Linked DNA regions of Homo sapiens. The protein of the gene in region 6 purifies or fractionates together with the protein of the main gene of each other region. This does not show direct contact. Each region holds a gene or a part of one and is shown on either strand. Other genes may lie near its edges.

What was found.
Region 1: the proteins of GRB2 (region 6) and LRRK1 purify together in Homo sapiens (affinity purification with mass spectrometry; 4 studies listed by BioGRID and IntAct, with this or other methods). This does not show direct contact.
Region 2: the proteins of GRB2 (region 6) and ELMO2 purify together in Homo sapiens (co-immunoprecipitation; 5 studies listed by BioGRID and IntAct, with this or other methods). This does not show direct contact.
Region 3: the proteins of GRB2 (region 6) and GAREM2 purify together in Homo sapiens (co-immunoprecipitation; 5 studies listed by BioGRID and IntAct, with this or other methods). This does not show direct contact.
Region 4: the proteins of GRB2 (region 6) and WIPF3 purify together in Homo sapiens (affinity purification with mass spectrometry; 4 studies listed by BioGRID and IntAct, with this or other methods). This does not show direct contact.
Region 5: the proteins of GRB2 (region 6) and DNM3 purify together in Homo sapiens (affinity purification with mass spectrometry; 6 studies listed by BioGRID and IntAct, with this or other methods). This does not show direct contact.
Region 7: the proteins of GRB2 (region 6) and MAP4K3 purify together in Homo sapiens (affinity purification with mass spectrometry; 4 studies listed by BioGRID and IntAct, with this or other methods). This does not show direct contact.

The regions. Positions count from the first base shown.
Region 1 is NC_000015.10:100,925,857-100,929,356, reverse strand, and holds part of LRRK1 (leucine-rich repeat serine/threonine-protein kinase 1), read right to left. Parts: intron 1-3,500.
Region 2 is NC_000020.11:46,382,616-46,386,115, reverse strand, and holds part of ELMO2 (engulfment and cell motility protein 2), read left to right. Parts: intron 1-2,621; coding exon 2,622-2,700; intron 2,701-3,500. UniProt on the Homo sapiens protein: Involved in cytoskeletal rearrangements required for phagocytosis of apoptotic cells and cell motility. Acts in association with DOCK1 and CRK. Was initially proposed to be required in complex with DOCK1 to activate Rac Rho small GTPases.
Region 3 is NC_000002.12:26,171,763-26,175,887, reverse strand, and holds the start of GAREM2 (GRB2-associated and regulator of MAPK protein 2), read right to left. Parts: upstream 2,801-4,125; 5' UTR 2,668-2,800; coding exon 2,556-2,667; intron 2,027-2,555; exon of another isoform or gene 1,891-2,026; intron 1,594-1,890; exon of another isoform or gene 1,016-1,593; coding exon of another isoform or gene 910-1,015; intron 1-909. UniProt on the Homo sapiens protein: Probable adapter protein that may provide a link between cell surface epidermal growth factor receptor and the MAPK/ERK signaling pathway.
Region 4 is NC_000007.14:29,876,008-29,879,507, reverse strand, and holds part of WIPF3 (WAS/WASL-interacting protein family member 3), read right to left. Parts: intron 500-3,500; coding exon 368-499; intron 1-367. UniProt on the Homo sapiens protein: May be a regulator of cytoskeletal organization. May have a role in spermatogenesis.
Region 5 is NC_000001.11:171,844,498-171,847,997, forward strand, and holds part of DNM3 (dynamin-3), read left to right. Parts: intron 1-3,500. UniProt on the Homo sapiens protein: Microtubule-associated force-producing protein involved in producing microtubule bundles and able to bind and hydrolyze GTP. Most probably involved in vesicular trafficking processes, in particular endocytosis.
Region 6 is NC_000017.11:75,329,179-75,332,678, forward strand, and holds part of GRB2 (growth factor receptor-bound protein 2), read right to left. Parts: intron 1-3,500. UniProt on the Homo sapiens protein: Non-enzymatic adapter protein that plays a pivotal role in precisely regulated signaling cascades from cell surface receptors to cellular responses, including signaling transduction and gene expression.
Region 7 is NC_000002.12:39,287,286-39,290,785, forward strand, and holds part of MAP4K3 (mitogen-activated protein kinase kinase kinase kinase 3), read right to left. Parts: intron 3,050-3,500; coding exon 3,007-3,049; intron 996-3,006; coding exon 836-995; intron 1-835. UniProt on the Homo sapiens protein: Serine/threonine kinase that plays a role in the response to environmental stress. Appears to act upstream of the JUN N-terminal pathway.

The DNA.
Region 1 (3,500 bases), on a different chromosome or scaffold from region 6:
GGTGGGCAGTGCTCTGAGAGGTGTGTGACTGTGGCAGGGCTTTCAGGACCGAAGCGACGGCCACTCACAGAGAGCTGGGGGGGCGAGCCACTGCCTGGGTGATGTCTGCTCAAGTTCCACCCACCCTCCGCAATCCAGAAGTCTTCCCAAGTATTCTCCACCTGAATTATGTGGAAGTTTCCTGACTTCTCTACTTTCCAGGACAGCTCTCCTTGGCTGGCGGGACTGGTTTTTCCACTCTGGCTGGTGTCAGACATACTCAGAAGAATGAACATCTAATGACATGTTTGTCAAAGTAATGCGCGTCCTGCAGCCCATGCCCAGCATCTCATTGACAGCTGCTCTGTCAGCTGGCAAACTCTACGCCCATCAAAGCTTTCCAACCATTCCTCTTGCACCGCAGGCGAGCTGACTGCTGCTGGTGCTAATGAGGTTGAGATTGTCACACACCTTCCTGGGACACAATTGTGTTGCACAAACACACAGCGGGCCGCACGGCAGGGCAGACACACACAGACCCCAGCCTCACACCAGCTGGGCAAAGCCCCCCACATCCAGGGGCTTTGAAAGGATTAACCATTGTAAACAAACATGAGCTGAGGTCACGCAAGTCACAACAGGTAGGGGGTGTGAAAAGGCGTGCCTAGTACACAAATAAAAAATTAAAAATACCATTACCCCAACACCCAAGAGTAGACACTCTTTTTTAAAGTGTGGGTCTTTTTCTAACGCACACGTGGAAGTATAATAAGAACGTCGTCGTTTTCAATCACGTTATCTTCCAAGGATTTTTAAAGCATGAGAAAGCTGTCCCTACATAATTTTGAGTGTCGTTAGTTTTCCTTCTGGCGGCCAACTTTTCTCAGCCGGAGCTGGAAATTAGGCCTGAACAGTGTTCCCTGAGTGAGGCTGGTGGATTTGGGGGGTGGGAGAGGGGAAACAGGGCTCCCTATCATCCCAGGAAGTCTAGGAGAAGGTGGGATGGGACAAATCCAGCTTAGGCTCTGGGGACATGTGCAGAGGGTGAGTCCTGCGGGGGGATCAGCTGCAGTCATAGTAAGTCAAGTATTCCGCATTTATTCCAGAAAGACTTCAAGGCAAAGAGGCCAGTGGAGGCAGATCTAACTTTGGATGTAAGCACAGGAGGTTTACCGTTTAGATTCTAAACACAAATCATCAGTACTTAAATAAACAATAATTTAAAAATAACTTGCAATATTATTCGTCTGGATGCAAAAGAAGGCAAAACAAAACAAAAAGCAATGTGTAGATATTGCAGGAAACATAAACAGCACCGATGAGCAAAGCACAGTGACTGCAATCCCAGCACACAGACGTGGCCACACGCCACCCTTTGAGCATTACCTGCTCCTTGGCTGTAGTCTTAGTGTACACATTTATTAATATATTCTGCGAAAATGAAATCCAACATGCAATGCGTTAAAATTGGGCTTTACAGAGGGAGCACTGTAGGCTTTAGTCCCTGGAATTAATAACTTCTGTTAGTGAGCTCCAGGGCTGGGGCTCACAGGCTCAGTTCTGCTGGTACCACCTGTGGGACCTTAAAACTCTGAGTATGGGTATAAATTAGTAGCTTCTCACCAGATTCCTTATGAGGATTTGGTTATTATTGTAATTCATTAACATGTAACATAATTTTCTTAATGCTAAACAGGGGACAGAACTTTCTGGGGTGTTTCAGGCTATCTTCCTCTCCTCTTCAACTCTGTGTTCTCTGTATTAGGTCACTGCACAAACACCTCCCTCATTCTCAGGGGTTCCCAGGGTGTCACTTCCCTGTCCTGTCCCTACTTCAAGCTCCTTGAACAGTACACAGTGAAGGCTGCTGAGGTCACGTCAGGGTCCTTGGCCCTTGTGTGTGTCCCTTGGGTTATACAGAACAGGGATAGCAGGGATTCCTGAGATCCCACTGGGGAAAGAGGCCATCAGAGCAGAGTCAGGAGAGGACACCTCCTAAGGAGCAGTGCCAAGCTCAGATGCAGGCCTTTAGGGAGAATCATGGGGGCTGGGGAGTGCCACACTTTGGCCTTTCGGAACACCTTAACATTTTCTGGTTATCTGTCCTGCCACGAGCTTGGAGGTGGGGATGGGTTTGTCCAAAGCCCATTGCGCCCCGGTCCCTGGGACCTGTAAGAATCAACGGGGGATCCCTGGGGACCTAGAAACGCAGGCTGTCTGTGCCCCAGGCCTCCTGAATGAGATTCTGCATTTCATCAGGATCCCCAGGGGACATGTGCACCTGATAATTTGAGAAGTGCTGCTCTATGGGACTCAAACCATTTAGATGGCCTGATTCTCAACTTTAGCTACACGTTAGAATCACTAGGGAACTTTGAAAAATTAGCCATGCTGGCCGGGCGCCGTGGCTCACACCTGTAATCCCACCCCTTTGGGAGGCTGAGGTGGGTGGATCACTTGAGGTCAGGAATTCTAGACCAGCCTGGCCAACATGGTGAAACTTCGTCTCTACTAAAAATACAAAAATTAGCTGGGCGTGGTGGCGCACGCCTGTAGTACCAGCTACTCAGGAGGCTGAGGCAGGAGAATCACTTGAACCTGGGAGGTGGAAGTTGCAGTGAGCTGAGGTCATGCTACTGCACTCCAGCCTGGGTGACAGAGCAAGACACTGTCTCAAAAAAAAAAAAAAAAAAAAAAGAAAAAAAGAAAAGAAAAAGAAAAGAAAGAAAGAAAATGAAAAAGAAAAAATTACCCATGCTTGTTCACTCCCCGCCCCCCTGCCCCAAGATGCTGCTCCAGTGGGTCCAGGTGGTGCCAGGGCCCTGCCGGTTTGAGCCACTACCCAGTGACTGTGTGGGCCGTGGTTGAGAAGCACTCCTTTAGATCACCAACTGTTGACCAGGAGGGGAGGGAGCAGCGCCTCCTGTGGGCTTTTTCAGATGACACAGTCACCTACCCTACAGGCCCCAAACAGACCCAAGGTCCCTGTCCCCACCCTCGTCCCTCAGGGCTGCGAAGAGGAGCAGCAGGAGGATAAGGGAGCCTCACGTGCACTGGAAAGGTGGAGGTGCTACCCCCAAATCGGGGACTGCGTTCTATCACCCACGCCACCTCGATCTCACACCAACAGAGCAAGGTCTTCCTACCACACAACTGAAAAAAGACACACGTCTAATACAAAGAAAAAGAAAATTTACAAAGATGCAAGTTGAACACTCTGGAAAGATTTAGTGCTGGGCAATGTCAAGAAGCAAATTCGTTTCCCATTTCATAATGTGATGGATGTGAAACGACACCTTCCAGAAACATCACCCTGGTCAGCTGCTGGACATTTCAGATGGAGTGAAAACACTCAAACAACTGAACAAAGTGTCTGCCAAGCCAGGTACAGTGGCCGATCGTTAGTTAACACGGTTAAGGGTACAAACGTGGGCCTCTCAGACCCAACCTGTTGACCCTTTCACCTCCCATAGTGTGGCCTAGCATTTAAGAATGAGTGTTGCAGCATTAAGACAGGGTTC
Region 2 (3,500 bases), on a different chromosome or scaffold from region 6:
AAAACCCTACACCTCCCTCCCTTCACTTGTCTGTCCTCTTTTCTCCTCTTATTTTAAGTCTTCCAATCCTACTCTCCTTTGCTTATATTCCAAGCTGTTGGTTGGCTTCTTCATTCATCACCTCTTCCACACTCCTGCCAGAATTTCTCCCATCATTCAGACTTGATCATGTCATGCTCCTGCCCAAAATCCTCTGTAACTCTCTCTGCCCCTTAGGTTAAAATGAAGATTTTCCCAGTCTTCCCATACCAGGGTGGTACCAGGCAAAATTAGATGCTTTCTCACATGGGCCCAGTAGTCTCTGTACCTATGATAATTATATAAAATACTGGATTTTTATTATCTGTTGCCCATTTTGAACATAGAGCCCCCTTGAAACAGAGACCAATCATTGTTGTATCCCCTGTTTTGATTTAAGTAGAGGCTCAATTAGTGCTTGTTGAATGAATGCTCACTGAACCGACGATGCACTGTGGGTGATTTGTAAGAAATATCACACAGGTGTGAGTTTGGAATATCAGTTCAAATCCAGGCTCTTCTGCATACTAGGTCTCTGCCATCAGCAAGTAACCTAGTCTCTTCTGGCCTCAGTTTCTTCATCTCTAGAATAGGTTAATCACCTTCACCTCTCACACTGTGAGGATCAAAGGAGATTTTAAAAAGGTCCAGCATAGAGGCCAACCTGGGTTAGGTATTCAGTAAATTCAGGGGCTTTTTTCCTTTGTTTGTTTGTTAAGACTCTTATCACATCCTAAAACATTTTACCAGATACTGAGACCATATGACAAATGAACCCATTGGAGCAATGTTTCTCCCGTCTCCGCTGTTTTTACCTCACTTCCAACCAACCTACACCATGTAAGGAAGCTGGACTTTGCAAAACAGTGGTGGCACTCCTGTTGATTCTCTTCTGACTGTTGTTCACTTCTGTTTTTTAGACATTGTCAGAATGTTGCCAGAATCCCCCACCAGTTCGAGGGGAAGTCATAGCTCCCAGATTTGGGAGTTTATAGTGGCCCTGTCTTCACTCAGCTATGCTCCCAACTTGTTTTTCCCCACTAATCCAAGTAAAAAGAAAGCACAATTATTTCTTTGCAACTCTGATTTCTCCTTGTCACTTTTAAGGAATTTTCAGCCTCAGCTTTCTTTGCTTTTCTTTTTTGAGACAGGGTCTCACTCTGCCGTCCAAGCTGGAGCGCAGTGGCATGATCATAACTCACTGCAGGCTCAAGCGATCCTCCCCATCTCAGCCTCCCGAGTAGCTGGAATCACAGGCACACTCCACAACACCTGGCTAGTTTTTTTTTTTTTTTTATTTTTGTAGAGACAGGGTCTCGCTGTGTTGTCCAGGCTGGTCTCAAACTGTTGGGCTCAAGCAGTCCTCCCACCCCAGCCTCCTGAGTAGCTGGGACTACAGGTGTGAGTCACCATGCCTGGTCTAGCCTCAGCTTTCATACCCAGCGAGCCACCAAGGTTGATTAAGGTGAGAGGGACATTATAAACTCCAGATAGAGAATTCTGATTTTCCTGTAACCTCACATCTACTTCTCTGGTTTTTTTTTTTGTCTCTGAATTCAGAGTGGCCCCAGTTGCCTCCCTAGGGATGATAGGGGAACATGGCATTTCATAGGAGCCAATACTTTCAGCCCACAGCTGTCACCAGAACTTATATGCTTTCCTTTTTGGGCTGAGGGATACTTAGTGCCCTCTGTTAGACTCCCTGGGTACCATGTGACTAACCAGGAAGCCCATCAGACCCTCTGGAAAGACAGCCACAGAATGCACCCAAGACATGGCAGGTGGAGATGTCAAGTACCAGGATTGTAAGATTCCAGAGAATGATTGTAGTTATTTTGTTTGTTCATAATAAAATAAGTTTATAGTCAAAGACTTTAAAAATACAGAAAAACGCAAAATTATTTGCCCATTATCTCACCTCCAGACATACCCACTGTTAAACATTAAATTGAATGTCCCTTCAGTATTTTTATGCATATTTTTAACAAAATCGGGATCTCATTATATATACTATGTGTACCTTGATTTTTTTTAACTGAATAATACACCTTGAACATTTCTCCATGTCAAAGATTTTTCTAAAAGGGTAGTTCTAAGTCTTTTTTGCAACCTAGACACCTTTGAAAATCTGGTAACAAGTATATACTCTCACCAGTTTGGAAAAAATACCACTTAGTTGGCAAACTACATAGAATAATTTCTGTATCATTCCTGGGGTTCACAAATACTCTAAGCTCATCCCTGAATCCCAGGTTAAGAATCTTTACCCTAAAACATGACTTTTAATAACTACTTAAGATTCTCATATGTATAAATGTTGGCTAATGTGACCATTTGGATTACTTTCCATTCTTTTTTAAGTAGTACTTTAATGAAACGCCTTGTCAGTAAATCTTGCATAGCTCTCTGATTACTGTCTTAGGATAAATTCCTATTAGTGAAATTGCTGGGTCAAGAGCATGCCCACTTTGAATGCTTTTGAGACTGAGCTCCAGATCATTATTTGCTTATAATCTGTGAGTGATTGTTTTAAACCATTTCTAAGCATCATCTTGCTGTTCAGTCTTCTAATCTCCCTCTCTCTTCTTTCTCCATTGACACAGCTCCAACCAGGAGATTCAGACCTACGCCATTGCACTGATTAATGCACTTTTTCTGAAGGCTCCTGAGGACAAACGACAGGTCTGTGGCTGCCTTTTCACATTTTTCATCTGGGCTCTTCTGAGATAATTCTCACCCCATGCACTCTTTGCTATGCAGAGAGCACAAATCCAGCAATTTTCCCAAGAGTTCTTCCTCTTAGCTGTCTGGTCTGGAGCCCAGGAGGGTGGCTTTGCTAAGGAAGACCCAGGGAAGACCTATGAGGGGAAACCAGCTGGGTCTTAGATGAGAGCAGGGCCCTTCAAACTTTTTCCTCTAAAGGGCCAGAGAATAAATATGTTTGACTTTATGGGCCATATGGTCTATGTGATAGCTACTCAACCTTGCCATTGTAGCCAAAAGCAGCCTCGGCCAGTAGGTAAATGAATGGGTATGGCTGTCTTCCAATAAAATCTTATTTACAAAAACAGGCAACAGGCCTAATATGGCCATAGTTTGCCAACTCCTGGGTTACAGAATCAAGAATAAGGAAGAGGAGACCCTGTGGCTACCCTGAGTCCAAGGAGTCCAATATGAATGGGATTTCACACTAAATCTTAGGTTTAAAGGTTCTCTGATGGAGATTCTAAACATCTTCCTTCCCCTGTTCATTAACTGTGACATTATGCAGATAGCTCTGCCTCTGTGAACCTTAGTTTCCTCACCTGTCACATGGGAGCAACAACATCTGCCTTGTTTACCTCACAAGGATGTCTGAGGAAAAACAAGATCCCTGTTTCACAAATAAGGAAACTAAGAATCAGCTGGGTGGTGGAACAAACACTGACCTAAGAGCCGAGGGGCCTGGGACTAAGTATTCTCCCTGCTGCTGGCTGGACAAG
Region 3 (4,125 bases), on a different chromosome or scaffold from region 6:
GAGACTTTATTGAGCAGGAGATGCTGGAGCTGTGCTTCCCAGTCAGGGCCTAGGCCCTGCAAGAAGGGCCCTACTGGGGCAGTGGAGAGGGCCCGGACGGGACTGTCCCTTATAAGGTCCCAGCTGTGAGAGCTCCCCCAGAGCCACGGGTCGCTCAGGTCAGGAGAATGACAGGGCTTAGAGCAGCTGATTACTGCCTCTCCCAAGGGCAGCCCTTCCTTTCCACCCACTGCCTTGTTCAGGGGACCTCGAAGGAGAGGGGGGGAGTCCCCAGAAACCCCCAACCCCATCTCAGAGAAGCCACCCACTGCCTTGTCAAGGGGACCTCGAAGGAGAGGGGGGAGTCCCCAGAAACCCCCAACCCCATCTCAGAGAAGCAGCTCCTTGACACCCCCTCCCCACGCCCCCTCATCCTCCCAGTTACAGGGGTGACGGCTGAGGGTTGGAGGGGTTGAGAGAGCAGGTTTAGAAGGCAGGAGTGGGAGGCCCAGCCCTGGGGCCTGGGGGAAGCTGCTCTGGGGCAGAGGTGTTGGGAGTTGGGAGGGGTCTGGGCCTGGAGGCGCCAACCCCAGCAACGGTTTCCAGGGGAGCAGGAGGGGCAGCCCAGCTTCCAGGAGGCAGAAGGGGCTGTGTCCGGGCTGCAGCTGGTGGGGAGGGTGGGGGTAGGGAGTACCTCCTTCCTTTCTCCTTCAGGCACAACTTACAAAATTTCTGCCAATCAAATGGGAAATGGTTTACTCTGATGGCTGGGGGCTCCATAAAATGTGTACATGTGGGGTAGGCGTGTGTGTGTATGTGTGTGTGTGTGTGTGGCAGGGTGGCGGGCGGTTCAAGACGCACAGGAAGGGCCTGGCCCCCACTATGTGTGTGTTGGGGGTGTTGTCTAAGCTTTCCCCTGTACCTCCTCACCTCCGGGGGCCCAAGAAGCTCTCCTCCAACTCTGCTCCCTCCTCTGAGAGCTGTCCTGGGTCCTAGCCCCATCTTCACAGCCACATGGGCACACAGCAGTAATCATGGCTCATGACCACCAACAGCTGAACCACAATAGCCCACAGTGACAGATGCTTGTCACCCAAACAACATAACTCAGTCTCCGGCCAAGGGGCCCCTCCCAAATGCACAGGCACACAGGGACCTACCCTTCAAGCCATACAATTCTGACCAGACATTCACACCCTGATGGTGACCCAGCCATAGCCACACACTGTCACACACAACAGACAGCTGGGCCATCACACCAGTTGTTCATTCACTCACCCATTCATTCAATCCATAATCTTTATTGGGCAAGGATGCCTGGTCTCAAGGAGCCCACAGCCAGGTCTAAAGACAATAAACTGACTGACCATTATAATGGGGTGCACAGTAGGAGACAAGCCAGAGTTGGCATGAGGTGGCCGGGGAGCCCAAAGGAGGCCCTACGCAGACCGAGGAGCTCAGAAAAGCTGCCCAGAAAGGGGAGATGCCAAAAAGGATGTGTGGGAAGTGGCCAGAAGACCCCAGGGCAGCGACCTCCATTCACAGGCAGACACAGTACCACACTCTGACCACTCGGCCGCGAGCCAGAGAACTAGACGCTGGCCTGCCCGACGGCGGGGCGCCGATGCTCCCCCATGAGCCTGCTCCCGGGACAGCTGACGCCCACTGTGCCCACTCCTGGCCGCCACGGAGGAGGGGCTGCCGGGCCCCACGGGGAGACGAGGAGCCTGCGGCCGCGGGCCCCATTAGCATTCATGGAAGCGAGTGTGCCAACGCGGGCCAAACCCCTATTCTTCTCACACACAAAACCCCCGGCCTGGCTGCCAGCCCCGGCTACCGCCCATCCCCCAACCAAGCAGCACCCCCCTCCCCCCAAACGGTCCCCTCGCTCCATGCAGCCTCCGGGCGTACCCTCTCGGGCCCCCATGCGTGGTTCCATCAGCCGAGCGGCTGGGGGCCCCAGGTCCTATTAAGAAGTGGGACAAGATTCGGGGGAGGGCCGGGAGTTTGGGGGTCACGCCGGGCAGCAGACCCGGCTCCCGCCGGCCTCTCCCGAAGGTGGCCTGCCCGCCCCAGGACCGAGGCTGCTCCTAGGGAAGAGAAAGGAGGTGCAAGAAGGGTCCCCAGAGGGGCGGAGCAGGACTAGGGGTGGCGGTAAGGGGAAGACAGAGTCCGGGTCCCAGGGATGAGGGAAGACAGAGGTGAGAGGCCAGGGACAAAGGGACCAAGGGGGCGCGGCCGGGGCGGGGGGCCCAGGGGCAGCGGGGGAAAGGGGGGCAACCGACGGGGCGGGAGCAGGGGCTCGGCCCCTTTCCGGACTCCAGCTGGGCGGGAAAACTCTGTCCCGGGCCCTGTCCCCGGTGTCTGTGCCTGTGCTTGTCCGCGGGGCCCAGGAGGCGGACCTGGCGGGTGGGCCCCGCGTCTCCCGGGAGGCGCGCCAGGAACCGCTCGGGGCCCACGCCGGGGAGCTGGGAGGGTGCGGGTGCCGCACCCTCCTCACGATCCCTCTGGCCCCTGGCTGGAGAGCCCACCATTTCCCCGCGGACCCCGGTCCCCATCTCCAGCGACCCCGGTACCTGGCCCAAGGCAGGCGAGCGTGGGCAGGCGGCAGCGGCTGACGATGAGGTCGAGCGGGAAGGCGCCCATGCTCCAGCGCAGGCCGGCCAGCCCGGCCGCCAGCTTCTCCATGGCATGGGCGCCCCGGGGCCGCCGTCCCGGGGCCCCGACGGTCAGTCCCGCGCGGCCCAGGCTCTCGCGCCCGCCGCCACCTCCCGGGGCCGCCGCGGCGCTCGCCGCCTGGCAGCCCCGCCGGGCCGCGGGCGTCACGTGGCCGGCCTCCCCGCAGGGCGCCGACCCCGGCCCCGCCCCCGGGCCCCGCCCCCTCCTCCCGGACCCCGGCCCCCTCCTCCCGGACCCCCGCCCCCTGCTCTGTCCGCCCCGACCCGGACTCGCCGCCGGACCCACCCCCGGACCTCCGCCCCCAGCCCTGTCCGCCCTGCCCCGCCCCGGCCCCCTCTCCTCGGACCCCGTCCCCGCGCCCCCTTCTGGGACCCCGGGTCCCCAGCCCCGCGCTCCGTCCGCCCGCCCCTGCCCCCGCTCCCCGGCCCCCACCCGCCGCTGCCGCCAAGCCCCGCCTCCCCTCCCGCCAGCTTCCCCGCGCCCAGGTGACGGCGGGTGATGGAGGACCCCAGGGCGGGCGCCTGGAGGGACAACGAAGTCCCGAGCGGCATCTGCGGAGTCGGCGCGGGGTCGGCCTCCTCCTTCTGGCTGGGTGTGTCCGGGCCCCGCCGCTCCCCCTCGTGCTGGCCTCCCGGAGGCCGCGCCCACCCGCGCCCTGTCCTGCTCCGCCGCCCAAAGCTCGGGTTCTGAATTCTGCTCTTCCAGGACCTTCATCACCTCCGGCTCCGTGGAGCTGGGCGAGGCAGCCTCCTTAACCCCATTTTACTGATGAGCAAACTGAGGGGCAGAGGTCAGGTGGCAGCCAGGACTTCAACCTAGGTTGGACTTCAACCCAGATTTGACTCCAACCCTACTGCCCAAGAGCACCCTACAGCGCCCCACCATAGAGCACCTTCCACGTTCCCAGCGCCCCCTTAGCCGATAGCCCTGTGTCATGTAAACCGGCGCTCCAACCCTTCCACAGCACGCGGTGTGGACTGCGTCCATTCTGCAGATGAGGAGGCCGAGGTTCGAGGGCGTAACCGGTGCTGCGGTCTCCTCTCGGATCATTACAAGAACCGCCTTCCTCCCCCACCGCCACCATCCCTTCTCTCTTTTCCTTCTCTTTTTTTGAGACTGGGTCTCACTCTATCACCCAGCCTGGAGTGCAGTGGCGCGATCTCGGCTCACTGCAACCCCCACCTCCCGGGCTCAAGCGATCCTCCCACCTCAGCCTGCGGAGTAGCTGGGATGACAGGCACCTGCCACCACTCCTGGCTAATTTTTTTGTATTTTTAGTAGAGACGGCGTTTCACCATGTTGGCCAGGCTGGTCTTGAACTCCTGACCTCAAGCGATCCTCCCGACTCGGCCTCCCAAAGTGCTGGACTTACAGGCGTAAGCCACCGCGCCCAGCCTTCGTTCCCTTCTTTTAATTTGCGTTTCCTTTTCTGCTGTCCTCACCTCTTCCTTCCAAGCCCCCTGGACT
Region 4 (3,500 bases), on a different chromosome or scaffold from region 6:
ATGCATTGCTAATGCATCCACAGTGATGTCACTATGAAGTTCTATTACAATTTGGACCTTCTGTTTATATACACTTTGCAGTCTGGGCTACCATCACGCCATCACTAAGTATTACACACTATTACAAGTCATTTTTAAGCTATTACAATGGAATAATTTAAACAGGATGATGAATTAAAAGATTTCTCAAGAACCATTTTGTACTTTGGAAGTTTCTAGTGCTTAAGGTCCCAAGAACATGATCTTCTACTCTATCATGCCCGTTCAGTAAAACCATGTTGCTTACTGGCATGTGTGGATTGCCCAGATGGTTCCACAAGTTAAGGAGATACAGACCACAAGGGAGCCAGAATGAATTCTTCCTTACCTGCTACATCCCGCTGGCCTGCTGGTCGCAATACAGGAAAGCCACCAGCAAACAGATCTCCCAGGGTGGGAGGTGTGCTCGCGCCTCGTGTGTTTGCAGAACCTCCTCCTTCTTTGTTGGTTCCTTTAGAACCTTTAGAGAGAAGACACAAATAGGCAAGGACTTGAGAGCAGAGCTGAGCAGCCAGGTCTCATTTCAGACCATGGTCTAACACTGGTCTACCACTGCCCTTGTCAGCCTTCCCATTCTCCCACCTCCAATGTCATCCTTTCACTCAGCATCCTCCCCAAGCACCCTCTGCCTTGATACCCTGTAGACTCACATGCCCTGCCCTCTCCAGTCCTACCAAAGAACTAACCATCTGTGCCCAGCTCCCCTGAAAAGTGACCAAAACAAAGGGACCTGAACACTGCCATTTTGTAGATGCTAACAGAGCAACTGGCAGCACCTTCGAATTAGAAAACCCAAATGTGGTAGGTGTAGAGCTGCTCTTATTTTCAACTTGGCTATGGAGGACTAGACAAAGAAAACCCACAGATTTAATTCAGTCAGTCATTTTAACTTCTTGTCCACAGAGCGCTGACCAGAACAGCAGGCAGGAGGTAAAGCCTGCCATGACTGTGCCCTGGCAGTTTCCTTCCTGTCTCTCCAGCCCTCAAGCCCCCAGCCCCTCGCACCTCCCTGCACCTTTTCATCTATGGAACGGAAAGATCATGAGCCCCTGAGGAAAGGTGTCACTAACTCCAGCCTTCCAGACATGTGTGATTACCAACTACAGAAAACGAGAAGATACTCAGCTTAGACAAGAATTCCTGGCAGAAAATATTTAACAACTTGAAGCTAATATGCACAGAGAAATTAGGGCACAGTGCCCACTGGTGGATGAAAGTGGCCAGATTATTCTGAGTATTAATATTGTACATTACTTACTCATGAGAATGATTAGGAAGTGAGTGTTTCAATGAAATTGATTTACCTGTTAATTAGGCTTAACCAATTCGATCATGGGTTTAACCAGAAACTAATTTTTAATGTACTCAATGTTGAAAATATTTCTCAATGTTGAAAATATTTCTTTAAAAATTTGTCTATCCTTGTGTGTTGACATTTATAATTACAGATAGGAGATATAATTCTATTTTTAGGACTATCTTTAAGAATTACCATCACGCACATCATAGCAAAACATAGGAAGACATAATAATACCTTACATTACAGGGTGAGTATCCCTTATCCAAAATGCTTGGGACCAAAGTATTTCAGATTTTTTTAAAATTTTGAAATATTTACATATACATAATGCGATATCTTGGGGAATGGGACCCAAGTCTAAACATGAAATGTATTTGTTTCATATGTACCTTTACACACAGCCTGAAGTTAATAAAATATTAATTTCATGCAATATTTTAAAATAATTTTGTGCATAAAACAAAGCTTGCGTTCATGGAGCCATCAGAAAGCAAAGGTGTCACCGTCTCAGCCTCCCATGTGGACAATCTGTGGTTTGTCCATTACCATCATTCCTGACACTGAATTTCTATGCTACCAATAAGCAATCATTTTCCTACACTTCTTCACACATAAGTACTTAGCAGTTAAAAATATGGCATACCATTAACACAGCAAAAAAATAATGTGTTCAAGGTAACTAAGCAACACAGTAGTATCACCAGAATACCCGGATCAGCTGTTAGACAACGGCAGCAACAAACAAAGGCAGGCTTTCAGTCTCCTGCGATGCTGTGTTTTGATTAAAGGTTACTGGACACTGGATCTCATTGTTTTAGGTGAGAAGAAACATCAGAAACCACTGAGAGACCAGGAAGTAGGTCCTCTAGAGTTGAGGCAGCATTCTGCTAGCTGGCTTTTAAAAATGTTTCCTCCAGAGTCATCTGCTTCATCAACAATGGTTTTTGTCTCAGAAGCCTCTCTCTGATTTTGTAAACTGACATCATTTCTTGTTCTGTTATGAATGTATGCTACTCTTGTCCTTCAGTAAACACATCATACATTTCCACCATGTCACCTGGAGGCACATTTTCTTCAGGGTTAACGTCATCTTCATCATTCACATGAGGCATCATGTCGACATTCAAAAAGTTTCAGATTTGGGATTTTTGGATTAGGGATGCTCGATCTGTACTAAAGAGTTCTGCATATATTATTTCAACTTTCAACAATCGACCAAGAAAAAAAAAAGGAGCCAGGTATTGTCTCCCCATTTCACAGATGACCAAACATCCTCAAAGAGGCTCCCCGATTTGTCTGGTTGCAGAACCAGAACTCAATGTGGGTCGTCTGACCTGAGCACAGGACTCAATTTACTCTGTCACATTCTAGAAGACAGCAAGCTTCAGTCATATCATCCTCTGAAACAGAATTCTTAATAAATCTTTCTCCTTGTGAAAAGTGAAACAAAAATTTTGCATTTTTTACAAAGTGAGCCCTTCACTTTCTATCACTGAGTTTAAGGACCATGTTGACACAAGGTGAGTGATCTTTAAATGTTACCCTACAAAGAATACACAAAACGTGGTGTGTCCATACAATTAAATATTCAATGATAAAAGGAGTGAAGTACTGATACATGCTCCAACATCTATGAAGCTTGAAAACATTATGCTAAGTGAAGGAAGCCAGCCACAAAAGGCCATATATTGCATGATTCCATTTCTTTGAAATAACAGAATAGGCAAATCCAGAGAGACAGAAAGTAGATTGGGTTGGCAAGGGCCAGGGACTAATGGGGAATGACTTACTAATGGGTATGAGATTTCCTTTAGGGGTGATGTAAATGTTCTGGAACTAGATAGAGGTGATTGTTGCAACAACATTGTGAATATAATAATTGGCACTGATTGAACACTTTAAAATGGTTAAAATGATGAATTTTATATTATGTGTATTTTATCAAAATTTTTAAATAGGTGTCCCATTGCAGAGTTGTTCTTTTTAGCATATGAAAAGGATGGAAGTTATGCTCTAAACCATTTGCAGATTTGGAGGGAAAGCTCTGGTTCTCTCGCCCACTTGGCCTGTCCAATGAGCAGGTCTGAGATGGCTCCATATGCATCCTGGGAAGCAGCTGTGGCCCCAGCCAGGGGTGTCTGGCTGTGCCTCACATGCCTG
Region 5 (3,500 bases), on a different chromosome or scaffold from region 6:
TTTTTTTGGACACCAATGAATGAATTCGGATGTGAATATGTTTACTTCATTTAGCGGTTGCTGTAAAAGCTGATTTTTGGGTGACAGGTTTGAGATTGTTATGAATAAAATGAGTCATGAATGAACCACTTGTTTGTGATTTTCTTGCTGAAGTGATGAACTTGCATATTAATGTGATATAGCATGAGTAACCAGATTGTTCTTTTGGTGGTGCAGGATGAGATATATGCTGGCAATGAGAGGCAGCTTAAGATCTAATGAATAGAATTTGAGACCTATAATCTGAACATAGGGGTTTACTAGCTGGCTTGGGTCTGCCTACTGGTCTGATTTGTATACAGAAGAATTGAATTTATTCAACTATTTTCATTATACGTATACATATATTTATAGTGCAGTGGTGATGATAATAATGGTTAACATTTATAGAGTGCCTGTTATGTGTAGGTACTATTCTGGGTGCTTTTATATGAATAATCTCATTTAGTCCTCATACAACCCCAAAGAGGTAGGTACTCTTATGATTTCCATTTTACAGAAGAGGAAATCAAGATTTAGAGAGTTTGAGTAACTCACTCAAGGATAATTTAATTTAATATAAAAACAGTGGAGCTAAGATTCAACTAGAGGTGTTGATGACCATAACCCATGCTCTAGAACCTCTGTGCCATATTGCATCCTCCATGTTGAGGTTTACCATTTCCTCTGATAAATACTTTTAACTTCTGTCTTGCTCCCTATATAAATGTTACCTATATTAATAAGAAGCTGGCCAGGCACAGTACTCATGCTTATAACCCCAGTATTTGGGGAGGCCAAGGCGGGAGGATTGCTTGAGCCCAGGAGTTTGAGACCAGTCTGGGCAACGTAGTGAGATCTTGTCTCTACAGAAAAACCAAAAAATAATTAGCCAGGTATGGTGGAGCATGCCTGTAGTGCCAACTACTTGGGAGGCTGAGGTAGGAGGATCACTTGAGTCCAGGAGGTCAAAGCTGTAAGTGAGCCATGATTGTGCCACTGCACTCCGGCATGGCTGATAGAGCAAGACTCTGTCTCAAATAATAATAATAAACAAGAAGCTACTATGTTAATGATTTTATTAATATTTATTTACATATGTTTACCTTGCCTCATTTCACAGAAGATTTGAGGTGACCCCTTAGGCAGAAGCAACATTTATTAAAAGATAAGTATTTTTCTTTGCTATATTAGACATTCTTGAAGAGAGTTTTAAAATGTAATTGGATTGTTTATTTAAGTATGTTTTTAGAGTGCATATAACTCATTTATAGAGGTGTTAAGTGAAAACTGTACTAGTTGCTAATACGCAGATGTTTTAAAATGACACGCTTGTTAGAAATATTAGTTTTTCAATGCTAATTATATAGGCAGAAGAGTCCACATTATTTTATTCTAGTCTGAGTGGTAAATAGACTCTCAATTCTGCACAAATAGAAAAAGTTTTTTGATTAATGGGGACGAAATAAAATATTTTTAAAAAGTGATTATGCTGATATTTTTCAAGAAATTGCTTCTAAGTATTATAGTTATTAGATAAATGGTGCTTACAATTAAAATGTCATAATTATTGAGAACCATACTTCATAGTTCCCAAGGTCTATAAATAAAGTGTCAAAACATGAACTTTTCTTCATGCAACAATGAATTGGTAGAACTTGAAATCACAAAAATATTTTTGCTGAATTAACATTATATAATATACTTTTAGGTTATCACAAATTCACAGTTGGTGGTACTTAATTACTACCATCAAATGAATTCCTTTTTTATTAGTAATGTCTGAGAGCAATATAACTAAGATAACTAGACTGGATAGGATATCTCTGTTTTGGAATTTACTTATGATTAACAGTTATCCAAAAATGCACTTGATTTAACTTCTTTAAGAATGAAGTTGGGCAGTCACCCAGAACCTTGGAGGAATGGAAACTTAATGTTTAGCTGGATTAGAGGGTAGGCTATTGGGTTCTCTATCAATGGAGTATACATTTAGAGTGTTAGGTATTCTTCTTAGGTAGTACCTTTTGCTATGGCTAGTAAGTTAAATTATGAAGTTTTATTTATTATTGTCATTTATTTTAGAGGGACTTCAAGTATCTAGAAAGAAATAGATTATTTTTTTCCTCTGCTACCAGAGCCAAGTCAAGAGAGTCCCAAGCTCATATGCTATATAGAATGATCCAATTTAATTTTCTGCATGGCCAAAGTTTTGCAATTTATCCTAGTCCAAGTTTGCATTGCAGTTTCTCACACTCTCTGCATTGATTTAAAAATTCTTATGGATTATGTCATACTAAATACATTTTATAAAGTAGACGGAAAAAAGGGGCCAACATTTGCTTAGCCATTATGGGGTAGCAGACATGGATTCTGCTAGATACTTTTCATACCTTCTATTCCTTACCTGTTTCCATATCCCCATGTCAATAGGGGAGAAAATTCAGGGTTGGAGAGACAAGTCATTCACCCAGGATCGTATAGCTAGCAAGCAGCCAAGCTGGGATTCAGTATGACTCCTCCTGGAACTCTTGAGAAATATGGACACATAAAACCAATGAACATGTATTTATTGAGTTCTAAGTTTACTGGGTAAGAATATACAAGAAAATATGAATACATAGAAGCTTATGTATGTATAAAAAGAGAACTGACAGGATAAAGTATGAGACAACTTTCAAATGCACATGTAAAATGAAGGTAGTCAGATATAATGCAAACTAATCAGGATAAAAAATTATAGTATGTCAATTTATTTTTACAAAAATCCCTGAAAAACTACAGTTCTGAAATTGAACTGAATATAAGTGGAAAGTAGACAATATATGCATTTCCAGTGTCATCTGGCAGCCCATATCATTTTAGCTCAAGCCTGCATGTACTGAAGTATCTATGTCAAAGCAGGAAGGTGGTGATCTGTGTCTCAGTTTCTGAGTTGACAACAAGGCATTGAATTTAGACTGTGACTTTATCACAAAGAGATACTGTATATTGGAGAGGGCCCTAGAGAAGAGCAGCAAGGAAAAAAAAAGAGATTGGAGAGATTAAAAATATAACTGGATGCAGTGAAGGTTAATTGAGAGTGGGATGGATCAGATCAAGTATTTTATAAGGACTTCCAAGGCACTAATACTTAAGGGAGGTGAATTCTATTTTCCTTTTAAAGAATAAGTCATTTAGTTAAAGGAGTAGAATAAGTCAAAGACACAAATGTCAGGGAAAATGTCCTAAAGGCAAACCTGAAAATGGAATGAATTGTTTAGAATGGGAGGAGGGTAAAGGAGTTGACACTAAATGATTTGCATTTCATGAATTAAAAATCATTTCCAACAAATTAGAGGGTTCATTAATACCATATTAATTACTCTCTCTCTCTCTCTCTGTGTGTGTGTGTGTGTGTGTGTGTGTGTGTGTGTGATCATAGGTAGCTTAGCTTTTCTTCCTTTAATAGTAGCAAGACTGGCATTTGATGACATTATTAT
Region 6 (3,500 bases):
CAATGGTGAGGGTGAAGATTCTCAATCAGCAAGGCTCTCTTTCCTCCTAGGCCCCCAAGATCTCTCCACTAGGGAGGTTTTTTCCCATTTGTAGGTATAAAATAATGAATATAAACTGAAATAGCCTAGATGTACATGAAGCAAACATAAAAAGTAAGATGCTTCCCTCAAACTCCCCAGAGGCAGCACGTGTTGGCGGTTCTAACACTTAGGTTTCCAGACCTTTCTGTCTGGTGTCACATAGACATGGCTGCTGTGTTTTCTTGCCCCCAGCTTAAAATTAACGCAATTTTATTTTCAATTAAAAAAAATAAATTGTAGTGAAGTACAAATTATAATGTTTAAAAAGTACTCTAACTGGAATTAAAACCAAAAACCAAAAAAACCACAACTCTGTTATAAGCACCCAGATCAAGAAATAAAAAATCTGGCACCAGGTGCAGTTGCTCACGCCTGTTAATTCCAGCACTTTGGGAGGCTAAGGTGGGAGGATTGCTTAAGCCCAGTAGATCAAGACCAGCCCGGGCAACACAGTGAGACCCTGTCTCTACGAAAAATAAAAAATTAGCCAGGCATAGTGGTGCACAGCTGTAGACGCAGCAACTTAGGAGACTAAGGTGGGAGGATAACTTGAGCCCAACCTGGATGACAGAGCAAGACCCTGTGAATAGCTGTCACTACTAAAACACTGAAATACCACCATTCTACATTTCTATAGCATTTTATATCATTTATAAATTTGACTTTTTAAAATGATGATATGTACATGTGACTACATGCTTACGGGTGAATTTTTTTTATTTTTTATTTTTTGAGACAGAGTCTTGCTTTGTTGAATAGGCTGGAGTGCAGTGGCGTGATCTTGGCTTGCTGCAAGCTCTAACAGGCAAATGTTTTGAAAGTCTTTAAAAAGATGGGCTTTGGGCCGGGTGTGGTGGCTCACACCTGTAATCCCAGCACTTTGGGAGGCCGAGGCGGGCGGATCAGGAGGTCAGGAGATTGAGACCATCCTGACCAACACAGTGAAACCCCATCTCTACTAAAAATACAAAAATTAGCCAGGCATGGTGGCACATGCCTGTAATCCCAGCTACTCAGGAGGTGGAGGCAGGAGAATCCCTTGAACCAGGGAGTTGGGGGTTGCAGTGAGCCGAGATCGCGCCACAGCACTCTAGCCTGGCGACAGAGCGAGACTCCATCTCAAACAAACAAACAAACAAACAAACAAAAGATGGGCTTTGGCAGGGTGCGGTGGCTTACACCTGTAATCCCAGCACTTTAGGCCAAGAGCTCGAGATCAGCTTGGCCAACACAGTGAAACCCCATCTCTACTAAAAATACAACAATTCGACGGGAGTGGAGGCACGCGCCTGTAGTCCCAGCTACTCGGCAGGCTGAGGCACAAGAATCGCTTGAACCCAGCAGGCGGAGGTTGCAGTGAGCTGAGATAGCACCACTGCACTCCAGCCTGGGCAACAGAGCAGGATTCCGTCTCATAAAAACAACAAGAACAACAACAAACAAAAAACAAAAAAAAAAAAGGTGGGCTTATACAACAGAAATAGCAAGGGCGAGAGCTAAGGGGGTGAGGGGAGAAGGCTAATTTTCCAATATAATTCTTTACTACATCCCGTAGGCTCCCATCCATATGCATTTAGTGTGAAAAGCACATATTTGGATCCACCCCTCAAGCATATACAACTCATGCTGCAGCACTAATGCCAACAATCATTTTGTAGTCTAATTTGTTAACTTGAATGCTGCATTAGCTGACATGGTGCTACATTTTATGCTTCCCTCTTCCTCCATAACCCCTGCTCCCCACCCCCACAAACAAACAAACAAACAAACAAAAAAACAGGAGGTGGTAGGATGTGGAGGAGAAGGCCTGGTACTGACCCTGACCCTATACTCATGAACATCCAGCCACAGAGCAGCCCTATACAACAGCAACTACGTCTGCAAGGCCAAACACCTACATAGGCACAAGCATGGTCTTTGTTAGCAATATGGTAGACCTGAATAAATAAGGGTTTTTAAGTTGCTAGTTGCCTTTTCAGAGCTCAGAGTGGCTGAGCACTGCCCACCCTTTGGGCAGAGTCTGCAAATAACAACACAGCTGAGCCTGTGCTGGGTGCTTCTCCATCAATTCTTCTAAAGTTCTTCATAGTGGGGACAAAAGGTCAAGGCAAGGGAGTGACTGTCCCAGTCAGCCTGGCAGTAACTACAACTTTCCAAGGAAGGTAGCCTTTCCTATCTTTCCTCAACAGTCAGATTTAAATGCCTGTGTCACCCGAAACACTGAAGAAAAATAAGAATTTCGAGCCACAGGCATGTCATATAAGAAGTGTAGTATGATGTTCTGTTGAATTCCCTTTCAATCTGAAAATATGAAAACAAAAGGGAACTGAAGTCGATGTTGTGTTTGGATCTAATGAAGGAGCCAGCAAACAATAATGGCCTTCTGCCCAAATCTGCCCACAACCTAAGACTGTTTTTTAAATTTCTACTCGATTGTTAAAAGAAAATTTTTACAAGGAATATTTGACAGGATTGTATGCAGCCCACAAAGTCGAAATTACTTGCTATCTGGCTCTTCACAGAAAAAGTTTAGCCAACCCTTGACCTACAGTTTCTTTTGAGGACGACTGAAGGAAACAGAAGTACACAAATTATGTGGCTTATATGGGACCTGGGGAGGATGTGCTGTGATCCAACAGGCCCCTCCCACTCAAGATGCGACAAGCCACCTGAAAGTCTCCGCCACCAGCTGCTGTGAAAGCAAGTGGACAATGTCCAAGGGCATTCTAGTCTGAGCGTGGAAAGCCTCAGCTCCCCTGACACACTTGTAAGGCAAGCCAGCAACTGCTTCTGTGCTAGGAGCAGGGCCTGTGAATGAGGGGTGGGTGAGAACGGGAGGACAGTGGTCTGCAGGGGCTCTCAGGGGTCCACTATGTTGCGTTATTAATAAAATCGTGACAAGGGTAGCTTCTGAAAAAAAATTAAAAATATTCACTGCTCCCAGCAGCCTGGAGGACAGCATATTTTGTTCTCTTGTAAGTAGGAACACTAAGATGGAGGGATAAACATTTATTGAGAACTATTAGATGCCAAGCACCGTACTCTGGGGATACAAAGATATTAAGATACCGTCCCACAGCATTAGCACATATAAACACAAAATCATCTAAGTACCTTTTCTAAAACTCAAAAAAAATGCAGAATTATAAAACACATCTGGCTCTAAGACATATTTAACAGAAAAAGAATTACGGACCTGCACCAACTATCGTTTTATTTTTGAAGATCACTGACAGTTATTATCAATCTAAAACATATAATATTATTGACTATGATATATTATTATATACTATTAACATGCACAATCAATATCCTTTGTTAATTCCCTAGAAACGTGAATAAAAAGTATGACATCCATCCCAGTGATCTCAATTTTAAAAAGAGTGTTTGAAACAAGGAGGTGGGTCCAACCCTTCCAA
Region 7 (3,500 bases), on a different chromosome or scaffold from region 6:
ACTTTAGTTGCTCTTTTTTTTTTTTGAGAAGGAGTTTTGCTCTTATCACCCAGGCTAGAGTGCAATGGCGTGATCTTGGCTCAGTGCAAACTCCGCCTCCCAGGTTCAAGCAAGCGATTCTCCTGCCTTAGTCTCCCAAGTAGCTGGGATTACAGGCATGCGCTACCACGCCCAGCTAATTTTGTATTTTTTTTTTTAGTAGAGATGGAGTTTCACCATGTTGGTCAGGCTGGTCTCAAACTCTTGACCTCAGGTGATCCACCTGCCTCGGCCTCCCAAAGTGCTGGGATTACAGGTGTGAGCCACCATGCCCAGCCTAGTTGCTCTTTTTTAAAATTGCTTCTTCTGGATAAACACAGAGGAGTCTTTACAGTGTTAAAATAGCACCTTCTAGTATTAATTTGGAGGCAAATACCTAGCAAATAATACCAATTATTTTTTTAGAAATGATTAAATGAAATAAGGAGTTAGGACAAGGTACTCTCTTCTAAAACAGAAGTAACCTAGACGCAAAACACATTTTCCATGTTTGTTCATAGTTTAATTTGCATTGTTTCCACACCGTAGCTAAATGAATGGGGAACCAGTCTCTAGAAGAGAGAAGGCTAAATATGAAATGAGAAATGAGGACAAAATATCTCAGACTGTGTCATAGGGAATCCTGTCATAAAAACACTTTAAGCTAGTAGGCAAAAAGCAGAAAACATCTCCATAGCCACTGCTTTCCTTCTGTCCTCCACCAAAAGAATTTCAAATAATCTCTTAAAAGAAAGTTTTTTTTCTCCCCATAGTATGAAAACCTGGTAACATATTTGCTGTCACCCTCCACCATTACCTAAGGCAACAGGTTTGTGTGGGGGTAATCTGGGAGGTGGTGGTCTAGGTGGAACTTGGGATGGCTTTGCTGGGCTCCCTGACATGGGACATCTCTTGATTGTTCCTTGATTTTCATCCTCAGTAGAATGCATTTCCTGTGGTATGAAGATAGACTTAGGCTGAAATAATATAGAAAAAGAGACCAACAATGAAACATCAAATTATTTTCCTGAAGTAAGTACTATTATACATTAAAAGCTTTCAAATTATTTCTACTATACATTAGAGGTTTACCAGATGAGTTTAAAGGTTACTCAACCATCCAATTCAGACTATCTTATTGTTTTAAATATATTCTAAAAATGTACACTAAAATGTGTACATCTCAGGTTTTGCTGCTGTGCAAATAAAAGGGCCTCTAAGTCGACTTTTTTATTAATTCCTCACAAGTCTCCCCACTTAGACTAGCCAAATAAAAATATTTTAGTCTTTCTTATCTCCTTCAATTTAAATCAATCTCTTTTTATTTCAAATATTCAGACTAGTCAAAGTTCAGCTCCGTATCAAGGCTAATCTAAGCTGTCTCTTAGATGACTCAATGTCTTTATGGTAATGCTTAATCTTTCAGACCAGGGGCATGAGAGGATACCAATTAAAATGTTATCATGTGGCCGGGTGCGGTGGCTCACGCCTCTAATCCCAGCACTTTGGGAGGCTGAGGCGAGCGGATCACGAGGTCAGGAGATCGAGATCATCCTGGCTATCATGGTGAAACCCCGTCTCTACTAAAAATACAAAAAATTAGCTGGGCGTGGTGGCGGGTGCCTGTAGTCCCAGCTACTCAGGAGGCTGAGGCAGGAGAATGGCATGAATCCGGGAGGCGTAGCTTGCAGTGAGCCAAGATAGCGCCACTGCAGTCCAGCCTGGGCGAAAGAGCGAGACTCCATCTCAAAACAAAACAAAACAAAAAAACAAAAAACGTTATCATGTTGGAGAATACAAACATAGCAATATGGGATGCCTGAGACACTTTCTGTACAAACAATGGAAAAATCTACAGTTGGCTGACGGTTTGTAGAATTTATAACGTGTCTCTTATTATTGCTCAGCACTTATTTCTTTGAAATTCAGATCTCTTTACTTCTGCTATGATAAAACTAAACAAGCAAGTACAGCATTATTTACTTGCATGAATCAGGATTTTCTCAATTGTATAAAATGAAAATAAATAAAAATAGTAATAAACCGAATGACAAGACTGATAAGACTCCAACTCTCATTTGTAACACTTTGATTTTAAACTTTAAAGCAACTCATATTATAATTAAAATTTGCTATGCATATGAACTTATAAAGTATATATTAGCTCATTTTACCTTTAAAAAAAACAACCCATCAGTTGAAATTACTATTTTAGAATGATTTTGTTTGGAAAAATAATTTTGTTGTTAAAAAGCATTTAAAAATTGTACTATTTTGTATTTTTAATTAAAATTATCTTTTGAAAATTAAATATCTATGATGATAAATTACTATCCTTTATTCATTCTTAGAAGTCAGGAATAGGTTGCAGATTTTGAGAAAAACAATCTTGTAAGAAATGTGAGTTTTCTAACCCAAGTCAAATAACACTAATCCATTAATACAATCATTTTCAGTGTAAATTCCTAGGACTTGTTACTTAGAATGAACATTAAATAAGGCCAGGCACAGTGACTCATGCCTGTAATCCCACAACTTTGGGAGGCCAAGGCAGGCAGATCACCTGAGGTCAGGAGTTTGAGCCAAGCCTGGCCAACATGGCAAAACCCAGTCTCTACTAAAAAATACAAAACTTTAGCTGGACCTGGTGGTGGGTGCCTGTAATCCCAGCTACTGGGGAGGCTGAGGCAGGAGAATTGCTTGAACCCGAGAGGAGGAGGCTGCAGTGAACCGAGATCATGCCACTGTACTCCAGCCTGGGTGACAGAGTGAGACTGTCTCAAAAAAAAAAAAAAAAAAAAAAAGAACACTAAATATAAGTTGGGCATTATAAAATGAGACAAACATAATAAAAAATCATTTACTTATATCAACTTCATGATTTTTCTTTGTGGATCACAAATGAAAAGCTAGAAAAACTCTCAACAAAGTATTAAATTGGCAGAACAATAACACACATATATCAAATTGAAAAATAAATCTGTCTACCTTTGGTGGCAAAGGAGGTGGAATTTTTGCTTTCAGAGTTGAGCTAAAAACAGAAAAGTTTAGAATCAGAACTATTCATTTTACAAATGAATCAATCCTAAAATATAATAATTTTTTCAAAGACACATAAAAAAGCTGCAAAGACAAATATCATTTTCTAAGATTGTAAGTTTTTTCTAAAGTATTTTGTGAAATGTTGCTAGAGGTATTATTCAGAAGTAACTGGGAACTGGAGGACATTATGTTAAGTGAAATAAGCCAAAACAGAAAGTTAAACACCGCATGATCTTACTCATGTGGAAGCTAAAAAAAAAAGTTGATCTCATAGAAGTAAAAAGCAGAACATAGGATACTAGGAACTGGGAAGGGCAGGGAAAAGGGGACGAAAGGGAGAGATTTGTTAAAGAATACAAAATTACAGTTATGTAAATACTTACAGTATGTAAGTATTACTACTCTCTTATACCACTGTAGGATGACTATAGTTAACAATA